Regions from separate parts of the Homo sapiens genome. Here regions 1, 2, 3 and 4 are each linked to region 5. Evidence: fine-mapped QTL for protein levels in blood plasma. Region 5 holds a variant in brackets. A gene starts in each other region. All regions are shown on their reverse strands.

What was found. PIP is the posterior inclusion probability: the model's chance that the variant is causal. Protein levels are from antibody-based Olink assays in UK Biobank. Linkage for the fine-mapping came from a reference panel and not from the study's own genotypes, which makes the PIPs less certain.
Region 1: it holds the start of NEB, and the variant in region 5 is fine-mapped to the plasma level of the NEB protein (UK Biobank, PIP above 0.99).
Region 2: ITGA5 starts here. The variant in region 5 is fine-mapped to the plasma level of the ITGA5 protein (UK Biobank, PIP above 0.99).
Region 3: it holds the start of PTX3, and the variant in region 5 is fine-mapped to the plasma level of the PTX3 protein (UK Biobank, PIP above 0.99).
Region 4: FN1 starts here. The variant in region 5 is fine-mapped to the plasma level of the FN1 protein (UK Biobank, PIP above 0.99).

What each region holds. Positions count from the first base shown.
Region 1 is chr2:151,733,323-151,738,098 of GRCh38, reverse strand. It overlaps NEB (nebulin), which reads left to right and starts at 3,623. Exons shown (of 182, transcript NM_001164508.2): 1 at 3,623-3,701; 2 at 4,304-4,387.
Region 2 is chr12:54,416,495-54,421,411 of GRCh38, reverse strand. ITGA5 (integrin subunit alpha 5) reads left to right here and starts at 2,146. Exons shown (of 30, transcript NM_002205.5): 1 at 2,146-2,431. The coding sequence starts at 2,214. The region is part of intron 2 of GPR84-AS1 (GPR84, ZNF385A, ITGA5 and GTSF1 antisense RNA 1); the gene reads right to left.
Region 3 is chr3:157,434,532-157,439,448 of GRCh38, reverse strand. It overlaps PTX3 (pentraxin 3), which reads right to left and starts at 2,599. Exons shown (of 3, transcript NM_002852.4): 1 at 2,386-2,599; 2 at 1,535-1,936. The coding sequence starts at 2,515. The region is part of intron 4 of VEPH1 (ventricular zone expressed PH domain containing 1); the gene reads left to right.
Region 4 is chr2:215,434,072-215,438,071 of GRCh38, reverse strand. FN1 (fibronectin 1) reads left to right here and starts at 2,004. Exons shown (of 46, transcript NM_212482.4): 1 at 2,004-2,417; 2 at 3,248-3,376. The coding sequence starts at 2,270. It overlaps FN1-DT (FN1 divergent transcript), which reads right to left and starts at 2,381. Exons shown (of 2, transcript NR_187198.1): 1 at 1,763-2,381; 2 at 1-1,153. RefSeq lists silencers at 1,821-1,910, 1,921-1,980 and an enhancer at 3,493-4,000.
Region 5 is chr8:16,152,644-16,157,560 of GRCh38, reverse strand. It overlaps MSR1 (macrophage scavenger receptor 1), which reads left to right. Exons shown (of 10, transcript NM_138715.3): 6 at 2,417-2,497. Among named protein-coding and RNA genes, the nearest start is that of MSR1, 38 kb to the left of the region's middle. The variant C/T (reference allele first, on the strand shown) is at 2,476.

The DNA.
Region 1 (4,776 bases), not on the chromosome of region 5:
TTGTAGAGGAAAAGAAAAATAATCATAATTTATAGGGTTCAGCTGTGAATAGCCTTTTGCTAATCATAAAAATGTAAACATTGAGTTCTGAATTATATGTGTAGAACTTTATTGAGGTGCAGGAGGTGAGGCTTGTGGTTTAGATGAAAGAGAATTAAAGCCTCATCTTCCCGGATAGGAGCTTAATAAATGATGCCTATGAATGAAAAATCAGGAAGGAGCAATGTAGACATTTTGTTAAATGTGTAAAGGAATATAACAAAAGATTCAGCTAAATGAGTCCAAGTGATGTCTCCAGGGAGGGGAAAAAGGAATAGAGGAAACAGGAAATGTTGATTTAGTAGCAAGTCTTATGAAACTTAAGCTTGATTCTTAAGCTATGTTCATATAGAGGTTGATCAAAATACTGAAATCAAAGTAATGACAACAAAAACTGTTACAATCCCATCTCCCCTTATCATGTCTTTTTTGGTCTCCAGGCATGACACTTCTATATTTTCATATTTAGGGAAGCCTTATCTGAAGTTCCGATATTGGCACCTAACTGCCCTGCTTTGGTTTGTAGCCAGTTGTACAAGCTTCTAGTCAGATGCCTGCGTACTCATAAATTCTTAGACTAACTATTGTCTGATTTTAGAAGCTTCAAGATATTTGGTATTTCAGTTAAATACAGAATAAAGCGTGAAGCTTCCAATATAATGTAAAAAATGATAATAGTAAAAATAATAATAGCTAACATTTACTGAACACTTACCATGTGCAAGGCATATAATAAGAACCTACCAATAAATCAGGGTGCCAATGTACTGTCGTTCCACAGAAGAGGTCATAGATAGGCCAGGAAAATAAAGCTGTTCTTTCATCTCTAGAGGGCATCATTCCAGATTAGAATCTGCAGAATTTAGTAAGGAGGTGGCAGTGTTTTTCTCTAGTGTGACTAGGAGGTAAATATAAGCTGCTTGCTGGTTCACTCACCCCTGTGTAACCATGGTAGGAATATAACCAGCTCTCCTGTGAGTCTCTTACTTCTGATGGCTTTGCAAATTATTAGGGCAACCTGCAGCAGGCCAGTTTAGCAGGGGCTTTGGGGCTTTCTTTTAGGAGGAATTTATCCCAAGAGATCTAAGCCAGGGTAATTTCATGTGAACTCACTCTTGCCCCACCCCCCACCCTAACTTTTTAGATGCACACTTCATTATGAATGGAGTTTGAGGTTCTGCTCATCTGTAGCACTTCTATTTACTATCATAGTGGTTTCAAAAGTAATGTATAAAGAGTGTCTTAGTCCATTTGGTCTGCTATAACAGAAATAATATAAGCTGGATGGCTTATAAACAGAAATTTACTTCTCATAGTTCTAGAGGCTGGATGTCTAAGATCAGGGTGCTGGCATGGTTGGGTTCTAGTGAGGACTTTCTTTCAGGTTGTGGCTGGCCATCATCCCCCTGTAACTTCACATGGCAGAGAGAGTGCCAGGCAGCTCTCTGGGGCCTCTTTCATAAGTGTACTAATCCCATTCGTGAGGGCTCCACCCTTATGACCCAATCACTTTCCACACATCGGGGGGTAGGACTTCAACATATAAATTTTGGGGGGACACATTCAGCTCAGATAGTAATGATTTTTCAGTCTAATAATCCCTAAGGATATTGAGATGTGTATACATAGGAACCCTCATTCTCTGTTAGTGAAACATAAAATAGTGTAAGGATTTTGACTGGCAACTTGACAATATCTATCAATTTTCAAAATGTGCATATATCTTCTGCCTCAGTATTTCTATTTCTAGAAATTTACCTTACAGATACATTTCATATAAGTATACAAAGGTAATGTACAGGGATGCTTACTGTGTGTTTTGTTTCGCATTGTTTTGCTTTATTTTGTAATAGCAAAAACCTCGAAACAACCTAGATGTCCATTAATAATGATTAAACTATTATACTCTATCCAATCAATAGAATTATTTGTGGAAATTAGAGTAGGATATGTTTATGTGATGTTTCATAAAAATGTCTATTGCATATTAAGTATATCGATTTATGTCAATATCTATATTGAAAATATCTGAAACTTAAAAATGACTAAGAAGGTCAATGCTCATTTTTTACTTTATATAATTTTGTACTCTATGTTTTTAAAGTATGGGCCTGTATTATTTTTTAATTCAACAACACATTTTAAAGCATGTAATGACTAGTAAGTCACAATTCTAGTTTGCAGCTACCAAGTGAGTGATCTCATATTACATAAATATCCTTTGGTCATAAGACCTGTGAGAACATACAAGATGAACAGGTATAATCAGTTAAGATGATAAAATTCTGTTAGATTTTATTTACTACCATGTGAATCATGGAGGGGGAAAAGGTACATGTATTTGAAATATGAGATTACTTTCTCAAACTCCTGGCCTCAGACAATCTGCCCGCCTCGGCCTCCCAAAGTGTTGGGATTACAGGCGTGAGCCACCACGCCCAGCGAGATTACTTTCTAATGTTTAACTTAAAAAAGAAAAAATATTACAATATGTTTAATCTCAAATCCATATCAAGATATAGGTGACTCACAGGGTTTTGCCTGAATACAGGAGCAACCCAGAGAAAGAGCAGTTCTCTGTCACATAAGAGCCTGTGATTTCTGTCGCTGTGTGTAAGGACAGACAGACAGACAGATAGAATTAGATTTTAAATTAGAAAAAATACTTCAGGAGCAAAGAAAGTGCAAGAAAGACATCAGGCAAGTTTTAAGAAAATGGTTAGATAATTTTTATGAAGGAAATGTCTTACGTTCGGATTTGCCAAATAGGGCATTATTTTCTCCTGATAAGTTACTGATTTCCATGTTATCTGCTCTTGCTGTTCAGAAATTGAGCCTGTTTGTGTCCGCATTCACACGTTGCTTCTGGGAGCCAGGAGTCATCTGAGTTAATAGAAAAATCACTAACTCGGTTACATATGAGAGAGGTTCTGTATTCCTAGCAGCTTGCCTTATCTAAGGAGGGAGAAGGTGCTAAATAGGATTTTGGTATACCCTCTTGGTTTAGTAACAGAAAAATGATGGGGTCTAATCTTTCTAATTACACCCTGTGGATATCTTATTTAGTGCCATTGTCAAATATTTTCACCTTTAACTTCACTCATCACATTTTTAAAAATTGCTTTTGTCAACTTGATGTTTACTGGGTCTTATTCCTCAGTTTCTTTCACACTAGCACCAGTAACTTACCTGTAGCTCACCTGGTGAACCTTACCAGAGTGAGTACATTTACCACCATGACTGGACAAATGACATGAAGAAAGCAGTCACGGAAGGGTTAAAGCCTCTCAAAGTCATGCTTATTTTCTACTAAATTCTTTTGCATGAATATGACATTGAATGGGGCCTCAGTAAATGGGAAATTCAACCTAAAATTGAACTGCACAGGCTGGAAGTTAGGTAAAATTTGATTCCATTTGAATTGTTCTAAGCAAGCAATTTGTTACCCTTTATCCTTTAGTGGAATTGATGAACAGGTGGTTTTCAGAAGATCACTTGGTAAATTTAGCTTCTGAAATTTGAGCAACTCAAGATCTGATTGGTTGCTCTTGCCACATGATAATTCGGAGCCCAGGCATCACGCTGGCTTTTGCCTGGGGTTCTCAGGAGGGGAGAGTTGGGAGAGGCTTTGCTGCTGAGGAAATTTATTTGGTAGATTGAAGGTAAGGCCAGTTTATGACTTTTTCTGTAATACTCTTTCAGGAGATGCTCCACAACTTCCCTCGAAGTATTTTTCAAAGGTTTGGGCCATAACTGAGGAAATTAGTGGTAGAAATATGGCTAGGAGAGTTTAACCCCATTGCCCTACTAAGGCCCTACTAATATCTGCTATGTACCGTGTGTGATTAGAGTCAAGTCCTTTGCTAACCAATTTATTGCTTGACTGAATTGGCTCTCTTGTCTAACATTTTTTTGCCTTTGATATTTTTCTCTAAATATATTAGTGTGAAAAAGAAGATACGCTGCTCTACGTTCCTATATTTATCCTGTTCTACTGGGCTTCATTTGCCTGAGGAGTGGCAGTTTCGCTAGCTTAACAAAACCAGCCACTGCAGGGTATTGGTTTACATGGCAAACATCTTTGGATGAAGGGACAGCTGTTCCAACTCATCATCCACTTCATATCAAGAGTCTTACTCTCTGGCGTCAAACTGTAGAGGCCTTGAGAGATCCTTTCGCTGTTTTCTGCATTAGAAGCTTAGGCTAAGGACTGACAATCCTATATGTACCTCAATCAATGCTTTACAACTTTGTTATTTTTCAGGTTTGAACGAGAGCTACAGAAACGAAAGAAAAAGTCTGTATAAGCCAATGGTGTTCGGGAAGAAAATAACCCCATTGCCTTGAGGTTTCTTTTTTTCTTTTAAAATTTATTGACAGATGTATTTTTATGGGTTCCAATTTGAAGCCTAAGATATATTGCAAACAGTGGATCAGGGCAGTATGGAAAACTAAGTCAGCCCTCTTAGAATTTTGGTGCTGGGGGATAAATTTCAGCTTCTTCTGAAACCCAAGCTGACCTTTCACTAAAATTTTTGCTGGAAAATGTCTTTTCTCTAAGTGTTTGGAAGTTTAAATTCTCTGTTCCCTGAGTCCAAACTCTCTCACTTCCTTACCTCAATTTCGTTTTACAATTTTAACTAAACTGATTATGTAGAAGTAGCAATTCCCAACACTGAAGGAATAAAGAGAAAGAAATTTGAAGCTTCTGCTGTTTATACTTGTATTTTAAATGTC
Region 2 (4,917 bases), not on the chromosome of region 5:
GGCTCCCGGTGTAAACAGGAGCAGGGAATGGACAGGGAGGGGGCCTGTTTGAGTTGGCCAAGGCTAGGGGTGGAGTGGGGAGGAGGACTGGGGCAGGACGCTATGTCCCCTGTCCCCCACCAAGGCTCCTGGGAGGAGCTGAGTCACACACCTCCTTCCCTGCACCCCTCCCCACCCCCACCCCTAATCTCCCAAATCCTGGGAAAATCTAAAGAGTTTGCCTAGACTGAGAAAGGAGAGTGTTTGGTTCACACACGTGTTTTGCTGGGCTAAAAAGCAATCAGGCCTCAGCCCTTCTCCTCCCAAAGGGGGTTCCCAGCCCATGGCTTGAGTAGCTCTCACCTAAAGGTTGCCTTTTTGGCAATGCTGGGCTTAAAGATCCTGACCCAGAGATTCCCTGGGTTCCTCACCTAAGAAAGGGTCAGGACTTGCAGATGTGAGAATGGGATACGGGCCAGCATTGCCCCACAGTCTGGCCAGCCAGCCTCTCCCTTGGGCTGCAGCTGGCTCTGGAGGGGGGCTTTTAAAAAAGCAGATGGGTGATTTGGGACAGGAAGTGGAGTAGCAGAGTGAGGGGGAGAGTCATGGCAGGAAAAAAACATTGACTCTGGGCACTCTTATTCTGAGCCTTTCAGCCCGAAGTGGGGCAGGGGACTGGAGAACAGAAGGGACAGGGTTGACAGGATATTATTGACAGGGTATTATTCTGGAAAGTGAGGAGTCCTGGAGGAAAGAGACTGAAAGGACTTGTAGTCCCCTCCCCCAGACTAAGATAAAGGCTAGAATCCTGAAAAGTGATCTCATCACACAGAGCCTGAGCTTGGGGAAGAGGTGGGCAGGGGGTCACTGCCTTCCCTTTCTAGAGTCCCTTCCTCTACTTCCACAGGGGAATCTGGGAAGAATGGGGTCCTGGCTTTCCGCTCCCATTGTTTTTTTGGTTTTTGGTTTTTGGATTTTTTTTTTTTTTTTTTTTTTGGATACAGTCTTGCTCTGTCACCCAGGCTAGAGTGCAGTGGTGCAATCGCGGCTCATTGCAGTCTCTGCCTCCTGGGTTCAAGTAATTATCCTGCCTCAGCTTCCCGAGTAGCTGGGATTACAGGTGCGGACCACCACATCTGGATAATTTTTGTATTTTTAGTGGAGATGGGTTTTGCCATGTTGGCCAGGCTGGTCTTGAACTCCTGGCCTCAGGTGATCTGCTCACCTCGGCATCCCAAAGTGCTGGGATTACAGGTGTGAGCCACCGTGCCTGGCCAGAGCTCCCAGCGTTTACAGCCATTAGGAGCTGAAGGTTGGGTCCCTTTGCAAGACTTTCCACCACCACCACCACCTCTCACAATTCTCCAGGTTTGTAGGAACCCGGCCAGTTTAATCAAGCAGGTACTGAGGGGCCAGCCACTCGCAGGCTTTTGGTCAACTGTCAGATCCAAGGAAGGGGCTCAGCAGAGGTTTACATACCCTAGGACCAAGAAGGGGGCAAACTGGAGCAGAATCCTCCTGATGAATGACCCCAAACTCCTGGGTTTTCAATACTAGCAAGCTTGGAGGAGGAAGCAGCGGAACTTGAGGAGCCCGTGTAGGTCCTCTAGCAAGCTGACTGCGAACGCTGTCTCTGTACCTCAACTGTTGTGTCCCAAATCCAGCTGGCCAGAACCCAGGCACCCGGCGGCCCCGGAAGGCAAGGGGGAATCCCAGTTGGCCGGACGCCAGAGGAGTCTCCTGTCTCTTTAGACCCCAAAGTCTCCTCCCTAAAGCACTGAGGGAGACCCCACACACATATACAGGCTTCCTCCGCCCACCAGAGGTGATTCCTTTCCTCATTAGGAAATTCTCCGCTCCCTTTTCCGACTCGTTTTCCGAGCGTTTACGTTGTACATCTGGAAAGGAATGGGGAGGAAGGAGGGGGAAGCAGAGAGGAGGGGGAAGAACCCAAACCCGCCCAGTCTAACCCAGTCCAGACAACCGGCTTCCAGCTGGGGCTGGGGAAAGGGGGTTGGAGGGGTGCGCCCCCCCCCCACGCCCCTTAGGGGTGGGGGACGCGGGCTCAGAGTTCCAGGGACCCAGGAATGCCCCCCCGCCAGCCCCCTCGGCAGGCGGGGGGAGGGCTCAGCCGGGAGTTTGGCAAACTCCTCCCCGCGTTGAGTCATTCGCCTCTGGGAGGTTTAGGAAGCGGCTCCGGGTCGGTGGCCCCAGGACAGGGAAGAGCGGGCGCTATGGGGAGCCGGACGCCAGAGTCCCCTCTCCACGCCGTGCAGCTGCGCTGGGGCCCCCGGCGCCGACCCCCGCTGCTGCCGCTGCTGTTGCTGCTGCTGCCGCCGCCACCCAGGGTCGGGGGCTTCAACTTAGACGCGGAGGCCCCAGCAGTACTCTCGGGGCCCCCGGGCTCCTTCTTCGGATTCTCAGTGGAGTTTTACCGGCCGGGAACAGACGGGTGAGTGAGGAGGGCTGGAGACGGGATGGGGGTGGGGGAGCCGCCTGGAGACTGGGGGCGCGGCTGGGGTCTGGAGGGGACCAGGGCTTAAGTTTGAGGGTGGAGTTTGTAAGGAATAGAGCTGCAGTTGGGGGCCCTGGCTAGAGTTGGGGGCCCGCGCTGGAGTAGGGAGGGCACCGTGGCGGGTGAGGAGGGGCCCTGGCGTTTGAGATCAGTGGGGAGACATGTGTCCGGTGGGGAGAGGACACGGAGCTGGAGAAGTCTGGGCAGGGGTCTCCGGGCCAAGGGAGAGGAGAGCGCGTGAATGGAGAGCTGAGGGTCTCTGGCTGAAGTCTGTGGGCTGCTGGGACCTGGGGCGGGTGGGGGCGCAGAGGGGGCGCAGAGGCCGGGAAGGGCTTTTGGGGGCTCCAGGAGACCTCGGGATCCGTAGGGGCCATTGTGCGGCGAGAGAACGGGTAGAAGCCGAATGAGCTACGTGTAGTAGGAGGAAAGTCAAAGACTGAGGGGGTCGGAAGGTTAAATGGGGGCCAGCCTCATCCTCCCCTCCCCCCTCAACTCAGACCGGGGAAAGACCCGAGAGAGGACGGCGGCTCCCTCTCCTTTCTCCTCTGTCTCCTACTCCTCCCTCCGCCCCCAATCTCTGTTCAGGCGAGGGGATCCGAGAACTGGGGGCGAGTGCGGGGACCCTGGCACTGGGGCCCTGGGGCTGGGGGCGAACTCAGCCAAGGGCGGGTGCTGGGATGTGTCGGGAGGGGTGTGTGCGCGCGTGAAGGGGGGTGGGCGGTTTCCCTCTTCCTCTGGCTCTTGGGAGGAAGAGAAAAGCTGGTTTCCTGTAGCTGGTCGGCTGGAGCTGTGCTGAGACCGGGACTTCTGGGGCTGGGGTCGGAAGCTGGGGAGACGGGGGCTCCGTGGGGCCAAGAACGTCAGAATGAAGGACTCAGGACCCTGGAAATCTCAAAGGAGGATCCTTATTCCCAACTCAGCACAGTGATAAGCAGACCCGGACCCCGAGTGCCTAGAAAATGGGGTACTGACAGGCTTGGGAAACAGGAGTTAGAGTGGAAGCAACATTAGAACCAAGGGTGTCTGTTTAAATGTGGGATGGCGGGGAGATTGGGAAGCAAGAGAGGTAGGTGGTTGCTCCTGGGCTAGGCCATAGATGCCAGATTCCTGGTCCTCCACAATGACTGGTGTAATCCTTTTTCTTCTACATCTCTGAGCTGGGAGCTTCCTACTGCTCACCCCCACCCCAACCCCAGGATCTCAGGGTTTGAGGGGAATTCTGTCAGAAGCGACCTGTTTTTACACATGAGACAGTTAACTGATCTCTACTCAGTCCCTATAGTTTTTGGAGAAAAGGGGTTAATCTAGCTAATACAACTGGGGAGAAAGGCAAATTCTCCTTTGTCTGGAGGACTTGGGGATGGGAGAAAAGAAAAATGATTAGGCCCCGACTGTTGTTCTGGGCTATTCAAGGTCCCCACCCAACCCCCACCCCACCCCCCTGGCCTTTTGCCCAAACCCCATTGCATCATCACCCTGGCCTGGAGCCTCTGCCAGGCCTGGTCTCCCCCAGGTTCCCTCAAACTTCTTATCACAGCCCTAATGGAGTAGAAAAGAGGGAAGGAGGAAGGGGATGAGGTCTCCTCCCGCAGATCAGAGTATCTAGTTGTCTGGCATTTAACCTTCTCTTTACTCCCCCCTCCCCTAAATTTCCCTTTAAAACACTCCTCTAAAACATCTGGACTTCACACATTCCTGGTCCCCTAGGTGTCTGTCTGGCCCCTGGCCTGATCCTGTAGTCCCTAAAGTCCTCTTCTAAAACAGGACCTAGCTCTCTCATCCCTTCCCCCTCCCCTTCTGCTCATCTCCCCTCCCAAGAGAACCCAGGTGTCCAGCTTGCACTCCTTCCCTCTCATTTCCTATTTACAATACCCTCTTACAGTGGAACATTCTACCTCCCCAGTGACCTCCTCCCACCACAGCTAGGCCTTCACCCCCTTTCCCACAACACAAGACAAACACAGCCCCTCACCTACAGCCATTGCCAAAGAGGGAGAGCCTCAGTGTTCTTGTTCTTCCTGCATCACCTCTTGTGGTGAACACCAAAATAGTATTAAAGGACAGGGCGAGCACCAAAGCAGTTAGATGGTAGGAAAGGGCAAAGCTTTCAGTCAGACAGAGGTAGGTGTGAGTCCCCACTACTTACTAGTTTTTTGCGTGGTACCCTAGTACCTAGGGAGAGGTATTTAAGCTCTTGGAGCCTGGTCTTCCCGTGAAAATCAGACACCTGACTAACGGAGTTCTGAGGACTAAATGAGAAAACATATACAAAAGGAACCTGGTCCACAGAGAGTGATCAATACATGGGCGGCATGGTTTTTATGGGGTAGCTGTTTCTGTTTCTGGTTCTCTCCTTCCTGGCTACCGCCTAGTTCCCTCATTTCTTACTTGCTTTGAGTATTTGCTTATACTAGTGATAGTAA
Region 3 (4,917 bases), not on the chromosome of region 5:
ACAAAATTAAAACCAGGTTCTTAGGAGGCTAACAACAGAATGGTTAGGAGCCAAGCTGGCTGGAGACCAAGAGAAGATAAATCAAAGCATATGGGTAAAAGTATTATTGGATGTAATAAGGATTAACATCTTAGAATTCAGAAATGCATCCCTCTTCTGCTCTAACTAATATGCAAAGATGAAGATAAAAAATAGAGTAATTCTTCGGTTTTTCAGGTGCATTATATGTACAATGACTTTACGTGGTTTGCGAAACACAAGACATTTCATCCATTAAAATGGCTGCAGAATTCTAATTTCTCTCCTGTCACATTGAGAATCTAGTGTACATTTGATTTTATGCTTTTTCTCCTCTGAAGCCCTATTTAGTATTTACTGACAAGCACCCCTCAAATATTTAGGAAATATGATATGGTTTCTGTAACTTTAAATGAAACATGCTCTCATTACATAAAATTCTTTAACTTTAAATGAAACATGCTTCTTCCCCCTCCCCATCCAGCAAAAGTTGTTTTCTTGGAAATACAGGGAAGGATTCTCAGGAAAAGTGCAAGTTATATTTTCTTACCTAGGACACTGATTTTCTAATACAATCCAAAATGATTGTCACACCACCATTTCTTAGAAGTTTTGGCATACAAAGGAGTATTGATTGGCTCCAAATCTTCTATTTCTTTCTTTTAACCATCTTTAGAATGTATTATTTTGGGAACCCATGTCTGTTTGGAGATTCATGGAGTGTCACATGGGACTTTGAGAAGTTGCCTGTGGTTTGAACAGTCTCTCTCCTGCTTGGCCCCAATTCTCTGAATCCCTGGGGTGGAGCTGGGATCCCCTACACGGATTGGCTCCTACACCTGACTGTTCCACGCTGAATCCCAAACCGCACACCCTCCGACCTCCCCTGTCGCGCTAATTCCACAAACCCCGGGGGCTGGGGGACCCCTGAAGAATTCCGCTGACCCTTCGGGAGATTAGCTTTAGCCTCAAGTTTCTTGCTGAGAATGGGTGGGCGGAGAGGAGGGGCCGGCTGAGGGGCTGGAAAACATCCCTAAACGTTAGCCTGGGCCCTGAAATAGTGCGGGAAACCAGAGCTCCTCTAAAGACAGAGGCAGGATAAAATTAGAAGACGTGGAAATCCCTAACGGAGGGAAGCTGGGCGGCAAGAGGGATCACGGTTATAACGGGCCAGTGGACTCCTGCAGCGCTTAGTCGGATCGGGTGTAAGGGGCCCTAGACGTCTATTTCAAGACTGTGATGGTTACCTCCACAACTCTCTTTAGGGCTCCTTAGGACTGAGGAATACTTTTTTAAAGCCAATTTTCCCGCCTTGTATGGTGTGCCTGAGCTCTGTGACCGCGCATGCAGAAATAGGGGTGTGTGTGTGTGTGTGTGTGTGTGTGTGTGTGTGCGCGCGCGCGCGCGCGCTTCCCATGAAAGCTTCCCCTAGAAGGTTGCCTGGCTTGGCTTGCCGTTACGCGCGCTCCCGGAACAAAGCCGCAGTGGGAGGTCCCGGCCCCGCTTGCCTCCTTACCTGCCGGCAGCCAGCTCCGGGCAGCCCAGCCCTGCACCGCGTGCAGGTCGGCTCGCGTCTGCCGCAGCTCCTCTAGCACCGCGGCCAGGGCGCGCCCCGCCTCCTCTGGGCGCTGCGCCTCCGCGCCCTCCATACGCGCCAGCCTGCGGCCCGCGTCGCGGGTCGCCTGCAGCAGCTCGTCCAGAGCACTGGTCAGCCTGGCCTCTGCGGGAGCCCCCGGCGCGCACGGCCTCGCCAGGCTTTCCGCGAGCCGGCCCAGCTCCTCCCGCAGCCTCTGCAGCTCGCCCCGCAGGACGTCGTCCGTGGCTTGCAGCAGCATGCGCTCTCTCATCTGCGAGTTCTCCAGCATGATGAAGAGCTTGTCCCATTCCGAGTGCTCCTGACCGCAGGCGCACGGCGTGGCTAGAGTACGGGATACACACACGTTAGCAGCCCGCCCAGGCCTGCCTTGGATGTGCTTTGTAAAAGCTGACCTCCCTCGGTGGTGCCAAGTTGCAGCCCGTTCCTGGCATTCCCCTTCCCTTTAAGGACACCTCCGAAAAACAGCATGTAAATGTCTCAGAAACGACAGAAATCATTCATTCAGGTATAGATTAAGTTGTACCCTATGAAATCGCCGGTTATGTAGCTCAAAACAGTCAAATATTGACGATTTGATATGATTCAACCCATTATGTACGTTACAGAAATAACTTTGAAACCTCCATCTTTCTTCAAGTGCTTCTCACTTTTGCATAACAAGCTATAAATTTTTAACTTGTCTCACTGGCCACAAAGTATATGTGTGTTATTTAGACCAAGAGGTGGATATGTAGTCAGGGTTAGCAGAGAAACAGTTAAAGTGAACTTACGGTCCTCAGTGGGATGGAGTCCATTGTCTATTTCGTTGTCCAAATTCACATACATGAGATCATAATCATCCGAGTTCTCGGCCAACACTGCAGACCAGAGAGCACAAAACAGAATCGCAAGGAGATGCATTGCTGGAGAGACGCAAAGTTCTTTCCACAGCTGGCGGGAGGAGACTCTCAAGTGAGCTGAGTTTGAGCGGAGGAGAGTGAGAGTGAGAGGCTGGAGCAGAGAGTCCTTAATAAATGCTGAGGAAAGCCTGAATGGGGATGAATGAGTAATGCTGGTGGCACTGCGGTAACGGGAGTTCCCCTGAATTTGGTGGGGGAGGGGGCTGGGTGGGAGAGCGAGGGAAATGTGGAAGTTGCACAATATTAAACCGCAAAGGTTTACGCTGCAGTCAGATTAATTGGAGGAGGGTCAGAGGGGAAAGAGGAGAGAAACTGGGCTTCTACTGTTCTCCTGAGAATTAGCTGTTGTAATTTGAATTGATAGCAATGGGGATGAAGGAGGGGTGGTAGGGGAGAAATTTCAGAGGGTACTGAAGCAAATCATCATTTCAGCATTTTCTGTGAGCTGTTATTATTTCACAACCCTTTATATATAGAAAACTTTCCATGTTTCCTTTGTACACTGTTTTACAGGTTGAAACTGAAAATGGTCTGATTCCAAGATAAACCAACATATTAAGAATAGTTATGGCTCTGAAAGTCAAGTCCAATCCGAGCTATCTTGTCTTTAATACTTGAGGAGTTGCACCTATACTTTTATAGATAATTTTTTTTTTTGAGACTGAATTTCGCTCTTGTTGCCCAGGCTGGAGTGCAATGGTGTGATCTCGGCTCACTGCAACCTCCGCATCCTGGGTTCAAGCGATTCTCCTACCTCAGCTTCCCAAGTAGCTGGAATTACAGGCACCCGCCACCACACCCAGTTAATTTTTGTATTTTTAGTAGAGACAGGGTTTCACCATGTTAGCCAGGCTGGTCTCGAACTCCTGACCTCAGGCGATCCACCCGCCTTCGCCTCCCAAATTGCTAGGATTACAGACGTGAGCCACCTCACCCGGCCTATGACAAACAACACAGTACAACTGGGTAAACCTAGAATGGGGAAAAAAAGCTGGGGGAAAAAAGGAATATACTTATTTAGTTATTTAGGTATGTTTCTTTTCATAACTTGGTATTATGTGGACATTATATTATTCTACAAGGTTTCGAGGCAAGGATCATGTTTTAAAAGTAAACTTAGAGATTTCTGCTTCTAACAATATATACAGGTCTGTGTTCACATGATATTAATAAAAACTTAAAAGGTACAGATGAGCTCCCATTAAAGTAAGGGGAAAATCCCGGAGCCAAAGATAGAGAGGAAAGCAAAAACAACAATCCCATGAGCTGATGCTAGGGCCCCTCTGGCATAGGAGTGAAGTGAGATAGGGGTTATTAGTTCTATAACCACCAAATGTTGATGACCATGTGGAAGCAAAGCTTAGGCCAAAGGTGGAGAGTTAGAAGGGAGATCCTCATGAAAGCCAGGACCCTCACAGGGTTACCTACTGTATTTCAGTAGGTACAATCCCACTCTGCCCTAGCACAAAGAGGTAGGAAGCAATCATGTCTCTCTTTGAACTCTACAAGGTCCCTTTGAGTTTGTGAAATTGGGCCTGCCCTCAGATATGTTTAGAATTCAAATATATACTATCTGCCACTGTGAAAACAAAAAAGAATTCACAATGATATTTGAACATATGAGGAAGCAAACCACTATAAATGAGAATCAGCAGAAACCAAAAAGGATTAGACACCTCTCCCCAAGAACTGCATTTAGTTGAAATATCAGCCAAAAAACTAGAAAATAAATATGTTTAAAACTACTGAAGCTCTAAAAGAAGGAATTGGAAATATGAGAAAAGAATAAGACATTGTCAAAAAGAAAAAGGCTAGGTGATTTTTTTTAAAGAACCAAATAAAACTTCTAGAATTAAAAAAAAAAGTTAATTGAAAATTTTAAAAGCTCAAGGCATGGATTAAGTGGCAAATTAGGCAAAGCTGAAAAGAATATTAATGAACTGGAAGACAGATATAAGGAAATAATCTAAAATGTGCTGCTTTTATGTTCAGTAATAGGATTCTAAAATCATTTCATTGTTCAGGAGGACGAAAAAGAAATTAATTAATTTTGCTTTGCTCAAAAATATTTGTTATAAGTTTAAGGACAACTACCAAATGGACATAGGCATCCGAATAGAAGGTGCAGGGGGAATTTTTAAAGAAAGACTTGATCTATGAAAAAAAAATTAATGAAGGAGGAAAGAAAAGCACAGAGAAGGATAAGTTAAAAGTACAATATTATTTGCTAAAATTAAATCAAAATATACCAATAATTACCATAAATATTAATGAAACACATTTTCCAGTTAAGAGACAAATATTTCTATTTGTCATATAGAAATATTTTAGTCGGGGCTCACGTTCAGAATCCCAGTACTTTGGGAGGCCAAAGTAGGAGGATCACTTGAAGCCAGGAGTTTG
Region 4 (4,000 bases), not on the chromosome of region 5:
ATCATGGTTTTGGTTGACCAAATACTTTTCTAATCACTTATTTCCTTCCCCCAGAATCAATGAATTTTAAGAAAGCTTTAGCTACAGGTTTATCTTGCTTACATCCGGATTTCCAGGTATCCTTCCCTCTGGAAGAAACACTCGGCTTCCCAGAAATTTACCAAGCATTTTACAAGGAGCTCTTTTATATTTGAAAAGAGAAAACTGTTTTGTCAAGTGATGAGAAATTCCAAAAAAATCCTCTAACCCAGACAGGATTCTAAATTTGGGGAAATCCATGGCACTCTTTCAATTTGGAGTGTGGGTCACAAAGATTCCTCAAGAGGTTTTTTTACACTATTTGTAGGAAACTGATATTTGCTGGGTGTTTTGCTTTGTTTTGGTTTGGTTTTAAATCCTTGCATGAATAAAAACAAATGCTAATTTTGTGTCTTTAATGTGTCAGGCATTTTATAGAACACAGAGTTCTAATTACTCCTGTGGCAATTACTGAAGGTGAAACTTTTGGAGAAAATAGGTACCTTGCCGAAATAAATATATTTTATTAGTAGCTTCTTGTGTTTTAAAGCAAATGGAACCTCTGAACTCCTAACACAAGGAGAAGGCAAAGCATTCAGTTCGGGTCTCTCTGGATCTACTGTGGAAGTGGTGGACTCCTCCTTCTGAAGATCTTTAAAAGCAATTGTGCCTGTGTTTATCTGACAAAAAGGACTGATGTGATGTGTTGCTAAATGAGAGACTTTTCAGATTCCCTTTCCACTCTGAGTTTAGAGTTCAAGGCGGGGGAATCTTAAAGGAGAACTTTCCACACTCTTGGAGTAAATAACAATTGAAATATAAAAAATCTGGCGGCGGGGGATGGAGGGGGCATTCTGTAATGGAACTTGTCAGCAAAAAGAAAATGGCAAATAAATGTGAGAAAGGGGCCGAAGGAGGGCAAGACAGTACATAGGGTGCCCCCCACCCACCCGGCTTTTAATGATTCAAGCAAAAAAATCTCTGCTTTGTGTGTAACTGGCACGGTGAACGTGGGAAAGGACACGAAGACCTTTCTCTCCCCACAGCTGGTCCAACTTTCCAATTTTCAGGTTGTTCACAGTGATTTCACTTTCAGTGGAAACGGGCGTCCCATCCCCAGGAAAGGAAGGCTTTCCTGCATGTGTAAAAAAGTAAACTGTTACTTTGTCCTTGCAAAAGAAAACTTCATTCTCTGAACTTCCCCGGGATCTGCAAAGCGCCCCGCGGAACTCCCGGTACTTAGTAGAAGCTCATTAAAGGTCTCTGTTCCCCTTTGCTCCCCGTTCGCCCGCTGGCCCTTTCTCAGAGCCAGACAGGCACAGCGCTGAGAAGGGAAGAAGTCCGAACAGGGAGCTGTGAAGACAAAATAAGGGAGTCCCGAGTCAGTACCCTTTAGTCCAAAGAAAGGGAGCGGGATGGGGGGAAAGGCAGCCCCGCCCTGGGACTGAAAAGTCTGGATTCTTAACAGCTGCAAGGTCGTGGATATTTTATGGGTTTTCTTCCTCACAAAATACACTCCTATAAGCAGAGATTCCCCCCCTCCACCCCGAAGAGAGGTGACGCAATGTCCTCAAACACTACCACCACCCCCAATAAAAAAGAAAAGGGAAGGGGGAGCGTCTTGCAACCCCTTCGCTTCACACAAGTCCAGCCACTCCCTTTCCTCCCAGCCGCTTCCCATCCCTTCCCCCATCCCCTAAAAAGTTTGATGACCGCAAAGGAAACCGAAAAAAAGTTGTCTTGCCCCAGTCCTGGCGGGCCATCAGCATCTCTTTTGTTCGCTGCGAACCCACAGTCCCCCGTGACGTCACCCGGAGCCCGGGCCAATCGGCGCGCGGTCGGCTGCGGCGGCCGGCGGGCGGGCGGGCGGGTGGGGTGGGGCGGGGCGGGGACAGCCCGGCGGGTCTCTCCTCCCCCGCGCCCCGGGCCTCCAGAGGGGCGGGAGGGGACCGTCCCATATAAGCCCCGGCTCCCGGCGCTCGGACGCCCGCGCCGGCTGTGCTGCACAGGGGGAGGAGAGGGAACCCCAGGCGCGAGCGGGAAGAGGGGACCTGCAGCCACAACTTCTCTGGTCCTCTGCATCCCTTCTGTCCCTCCACCCGTCCCCTTCCCCACCCTCTGGCCCCCACCTTCTTGGAGGCGACAACCCCCGGGAGGCATTAGAAGGGATTTTTCCCGCAGGTTGCGAAGGGAAGCAAACTTGGTGGCAACTTGCCTCCCGGTGCGGGCGTCTCTCCCCCACCGTCTCAACATGCTTAGGGGTCCGGGGCCCGGGCTGCTGCTGCTGGCCGTCCAGTGCCTGGGGACAGCGGTGCCCTCCACGGGAGCCTCGAAGAGCAAGAGGCAGGCTCAGCAAATGGTTCAGCCCCAGTCCCCGGTGGCTGTCAGTCAAAGCAAGCGTGAGTACTGACCGCGGGCTGAAACAGGCTGCCTCAGGGATGGGACCCTAAAGCCGACCAAAGTTGGGGCTGAAGTTTTGTGCGCGCGCGTGTGTGCGAGTGTGTGCGCGCTTTACTGAGAGAAACCAGCTGTGCACACAAAAGGACCGAGTTTTGAGCACGCTGGTTCTGAGGGCCTGGGATGATAAGACCGTGCATTGGAGGACGAGGACTCTGCGACTTTCCCGTGTTCTAATAAATTCTGCACGTTCAGATTGTCCTTCTAGGAATTAACCAAAACTTGCCTTTAAAGAGAAAAATGATGCATGTCTATAAATTTTCCGTCTGGGATTAGTGTGGTCCTTACTGCTACTTATTTCCTTCTGTTAAATAATTGGTCAAATATTTTCAACATGGGGGTGGAAAGGGGGTATTGAAATAGCTGTCTTGTTTCTAACTAACTTGGAAGAGATGTAATTGGTTCAGACCTCTTTAGGGCCGCTCAGGATACTTCACCAAGAACAGAGGTTGGAATTCTTTCCGTTTTTCAAAGACACACCCTCCTTTTGCTTTGAGAAAGCTGCTTAAAGTTGTCCTTTTTGACTATTACTCCAAAAGAATATTTAAGTTCCTTGCATGTTTTAAAAATGTGACTTCAATTGTCTGCCTTCCAAAATGTTTCCAACTTTTTTATGTAGACCCCTGGCCAGATGGAAATGACATCATTGTATATAACTTTTAGCAAAGTTAAAAGGAAAAAAATATGTACGTCAATATTCACATGAAGAAAATTCCATAATTTTGGGAAAAGGAGAAATGCAAATGTAACGTTTTCCTTCAATTATTTGCAGCCGGTTGTTATGACAATGGAAAACACTATCAGATAAATCAACAGTGGGAGCGGACCTACCTAGGCAATGCGTTGGTTTGTACTTGTTATGGAGGAAGCCGAGGTTTTAACTGCGAGAGTAAACCTGAAGGTAAGTGACAACAAGCCCCATAGTTAGTATCTTTTAATACATGAAGTGGTAATTGTTAAACTTTGCATTAGTAAGTAAAAATACATACACCATTTTTCTAATAGAATTACCTGTCATTTCCTCTTAAGTTTAAAAACTGCTTATATTTGCTTTTCACATGCTTTTACCTTTAAAACAAAGAAACGAATCTTTCCCAAATTAGTTCCTAGAGTCTTCTTTTTGCTTTACTCTCCCAAAGTTTTTGATGAGAAAAATGAAAGATTTTGTGTGTCCTCCGACAAAAAAAATTGCTTATAAAATTTTAATTTATTAGAAAGCAGTCTCAAATCTTAAACTGTTAGTTTATGAGCCAGAAAACACTTTGGGGACTTACATCGTAAAATGATTTGTCAGCGGCAGTTAACACAAAACCATTAGCCACTTCAAAGTTCTCATTCCTTTAGGACCAATGATATTTTTCTCATAAATTATAGCAACTCTGTCAGAGAAGCACTGATCAGGGGAAAATGGAAATCATAGGATTAACAACTGTCAAGGCCTTGTGGGAGGTGGGGATCTTCGAATTGTTTGTTTGTTTTTGTTTTGTTTTGTTTTTGAGACAGAGTCTTGCTCTGTCACCAGGCT
Region 5 (4,917 bases):
AAAAATGAAACATAATGTGAGATTAATGTTACATGAAGAATAGAATGACAATAAAAAGGTACATTCAACATGCCTAGTTAGAACTCTAACAAAAATCTTTACCTGTTTTTCTTATTGTAGGATTCGAATACCAGGTATCAGTATTTTTATATAAAAATACAGAGAGGGATCTTTAACTCCAAATTTTGTAAAATAATACTGATCTATTCGCTGTGATTGAACTAATACTCCAAAATTAAGTATACAGTTCCCATAATTACATGTAATATAATTGAAAGGATAGTTAGTAATTAGGAGAGTTCCTTCCATCTCTTACTTACCAAAGAAATGGTGAGAAGTCCATCTCAGAGGCTAAGAGTCTAGATCTATTCTCTGTGTCCCTTGTTTCTTCTTGTTTCATGTTCTAGTTTTTCCTGGAATGTCTGCGTCTTGCTTTGGATCCTGAGTTACTAAACTGAAATCTTTGCTTGCGCACTTTTTTCAAAATACCATCCTTGATTACTATCCCTGTGCTTCCCTTCAATTAGCTCAACAAAATTCAGGCATAAATTGAGTGTCTGTCCTGCTTGCCCCCCTCCCCTGGGATTCATTGCTATGTAGTGTTGAATGGATGCAGCTGCGTTCATGGTTATGGAAGTTACCATAACTCCATTTTCTTGGGAAGTACTACATTCTTCTGCAGGGAATAGGGGGCACATAGAGATTCCCTTTGATACAGAAATCTTACATTTCTTGTGCAGCATTTAAATATATGTCTCGCAGCAATTAAGCTATACCTTAGAATATAATACACCAGTTAATTTCTAAAAGCCCTGTAACATGTTGTTTGCATGACGATTATGTGGAAAAAAAAAATACACGTACACACTTAGGAAAGAAATGGTAAAGATCTTTAGTTAAAATAACACAACTACGAATTATATTCTTCCTCACGCTTTTTCTAGGCTTTTATGTTTCCTATAAGTAGAGTTGCTTTTATAATAAAAATACAATTAAATGTGTGTCCAATGTTGCATATGAGGAGAAAGGGACATTCTATTGAGAAGAGTAATAATGATATCTTGGGCCTCTAAAACCCAAATTGTACCTTGAAAATGGGACATACCAGAGGAATAGACAGAAGTAGAGTCAAGGATGTCAAAATAAGCAACAACAAAATGTACAAAATATACTTATTCATGAGATAATCTTTATTTATTTATGTGGTTCCCCCTCTTAGATTTCTTCGGGTATTATGTCTCCCACCTGATTAAAATTTGTAAACAAGTGCATTCTAACCAGGGATGCTGTATATATTTGTTTTCCTTGGACTATGTATGTGTCCAAACTAGCAATTGAAAATGCTTCCTTTAAAATATCACTATTTCCTTATTCTGTGGTGAATCTATGGAATAATGTTTCTTTCTGTTTCTTTCTTCTGGTGTTGAAAAGGAAACTAAGTGCTCTTCTTTAGATAAAGAAGAGATTATTTGTCCTCTGTACTCCATATGGAACATGGTGTTTAGGTAGGATTACCTTTGAGTTCTAAAGACATGCTAGGTATAATCATTTTAAAGGCATGATGAGCAGGTATCTGTTTTGCTGGACACAGAAAATACAAATGGCTAAATCAGGGTTGTTTAGTTACAGCTCTCAGGAGAGCCACCTGAAAAAAAATGATGAGACCAAAGTTTTCCTTGCAATGTCTCCATTTTGTTTACAGTATTTATAGCAACCTAGAAATTCTACTTAATATTTTACTTGAAAAAAGAATTCCTCTACTCATTTTCACCTTCCTGCCTTTCCTCATGCCTTTCTCAATCCCTAGGAATTGTCTTCCTTCCCCTTCCCTTCATTCTTGAAAGTACCCCTCATATCCTACTTTCTCAATGAAGACTTCAACCATCACCATTCACGCCGATCTACAGTTCACTGACAAATATCTGAGTTTATGGTCAGTTCCAACAAAGTGCTTTCTGGTTGTCTACCATGTGTGAATTTTCCTTTCCCTTGAGGGTATCACAAATGTCTTTTAAGTTCTTACTTATAGATTTTCCGTATAGTAGCTAATTCTGTATTATATCTAACTCTATGTCTAACTGCCTAGGATGCGTACAACACTAATGTGACTTTGTGCCAGCCTGCTGTCTTTTCTCTGCCCCCAGGTTCTCAGAACATAGAAAAGTGTTAGGCACACTCACATTTAATATACTGTTAGGTTGTTTACTTTGAGGCAATGTCATCCTCATTAGTATAGGGCATTATATTCCTGAATAGCAGAATACTCCTCCATTCATGAAGTTCAGTATTATACATTCTATATTATTGCACAACAAATAGAAGACTTTGGATTTCCTTATATAAGTACCTTGACAGATGACTAACCCATTTTTCCTATGCTTTACAACTATGATCAGTAACTGTAATTTTTTTAAAGGTCCTCCTGGACCCCCGGGTGAAAAAGGAGATCGAGGTCCCACTGGAGAAAGTGGTCCA[C/T]GAGGATTTCCAGGTCCAATAGGTATGGTAATTTTAGCTATTTAATCATATACTGTGAAGATAGATGATATACATCCAGGTACATGTGTAGGGGAGGATTGCTATTTTATTTATATCCTGCAGAGGATGTGTATGTGTGTGTGTGTGTGTATGCACGCACATGTGTGTATATGTGTGTGTGTTTTGGGGGATTAGTAAATGTTCTAGTAGCCTAATCACATAATACACTGAATGATAAGCATTACTCATGACTGTTGAAGAAAATAAATGCTTTAACCAGAGTAACCAAATGGAATTGTTTGTAAGTCTAGATAGTGACATGTATATAATAGACAGCAAACAGTATAAGGCAGACCTAACCGTAGATCATATGTGAAGGGGAGTACAACAATTATCTTTGCGTTGAATAAATCATCTTCACATTTGCAAGCTATCTCATTTTTAAGACATAAAAACTCACACTAGTAGTGAGTTATGAATCACAAGCAAATTGGACTATATTTCTTATATAGTATTTGGAATATATCTGTTTAAACTAATGAAATCTGAATGTAAATATTGGCTAAAATATGGATGACACTTACCTTGCTGACAGTCACTCTCTGTGCTTTACTAAGAGCAAAACTGTTTCAAATTATTTTCCTCTAAGTTGTAATCTTGAAAGAAATATTTTGAAAGAAGACACAGAAGAGAGAACATGAACTTTCTTTGCTTGAAAAAATAAAAAAGATAATAACATGATTGTCATGTTAGCCTTGGCTTGAAATCAAATATCCTGCATGCCGTTTGATGGTAGGAAGTATACTGCAAGGTCTAATTATAAGTAGAATGGTTTGTGTTACCAAAACATGTCTAAATACCATGTACTTCATCTTATTTTTCTGTCTTTTGATTATATAAAAGGTTCTTCTTTCTGATCAGTGTATTGACTAGCCCTGGTCACATCAGAAAAATTTTTGAAAATGAGAAGCATGAACTTGATACCTGCCTAAGCACATATATGTATATATATGTATATAAATATATATGGCATATTATATGTGAAGATAGATGATATACATCCAGGTACACATGTTTTATATATATAAAATAGCAATCCTACCCATATATATAATATGCCAAGTCAGGTGGTATTAGTATTGATGTGCTTTTGAATGCCTTGCCAGGAAAGAATTTTTATTCAGGAAAGTCTTTCTACTTGACTAATGCTAATCAGATATTAACAATGCTGCATTAATGTCATAAGCAGAGGAAATAACCAGTATTAAATCTGCTGCCAGAACTACCATTGTCAAGGGTCTATCACCCCCTCCATACAGGCTGCAATTGTCAGAGCTTTATAACTCAACCATAAAAATTCAGTCTGGGCTACATCTTGCCATACAGTGCTTCATCTTGGGAGAATCTTCTGCAGCTGTTTCTGAACTGTGAATGTATGAAATAGAAGGATTTATAAATTTCAGCTTGTGTTAATGTTATAAATAGACACCATTGCAAAGAATCTTTGATTTTGTTTTTTTTTTATTGTAAATTAACGATTTGTCATGGTTTAAATTTACAGGGTAAAAAGTGATGTCATAATTTGTTGCTTTTGGTACTGCTCATTTACACAAATAGGCATTACCCAGTTCCTCATAAAAGACAGGTCGAGTTCCTGGGGTAATCAATGACTCTTCTAGGTTATCAGGTTACCATTTTGTTTGGTGCACTACAAGAAAAGTATTCAAAATACCAGGCATCTTTCCTAATGAATTATTTCTGGATGTCTTGCTGCATTCTGTTCGTTTCTCCACCAGATTGTCTAATTGCCTTATATTTGATGCCGAAATCAGGAAGCAAAGAGTATATGATGGACAATCATACTAATTCTGCTTTCTAATCTGAGCAGGTTTATTGCTTCCCCATCTCTACATCCATTTGAGCCTACTAAACTCAGCTTGACCAAGTCAAACTCACCTAGACTCACAATCATGATGCGAATATCTGCAAAACCTAAGTGGTTGTCCTAGTAGCCTCAAATAACTAATACATTAAATATAGTAGAATTATTATTCATATACTAGGGTGGATATTATGTTTAAATATGCTTTATTCCCCAAATAATAACAAATTTATTTTAGAGGGCTATTTCCTTGAAAGCATGCTAGGGAGAATGACCTATCACTTTTCACTCAAAAACTATGTGCTGAGCACTTTCTCCAGGCCTGGTGTTCTACAATACCCTATAGAGTATGTGTAAACAGATACAGAATCTCTGAATTCACAGCGCTTCCAGGATGATAAGTAGTAATATAAGGGAGGCAAATGTCATGATCAAGGATTTTTTATCTCATGTGAGTTTCTTTTAAGGGGCTGATTTTACCCATGACAACAATGTTTTGAAGGAGAAGCAACTTTCTTTTCTAAAGGAAACTTTGTGTGGGCCATCTAAGAAGCTGTTTA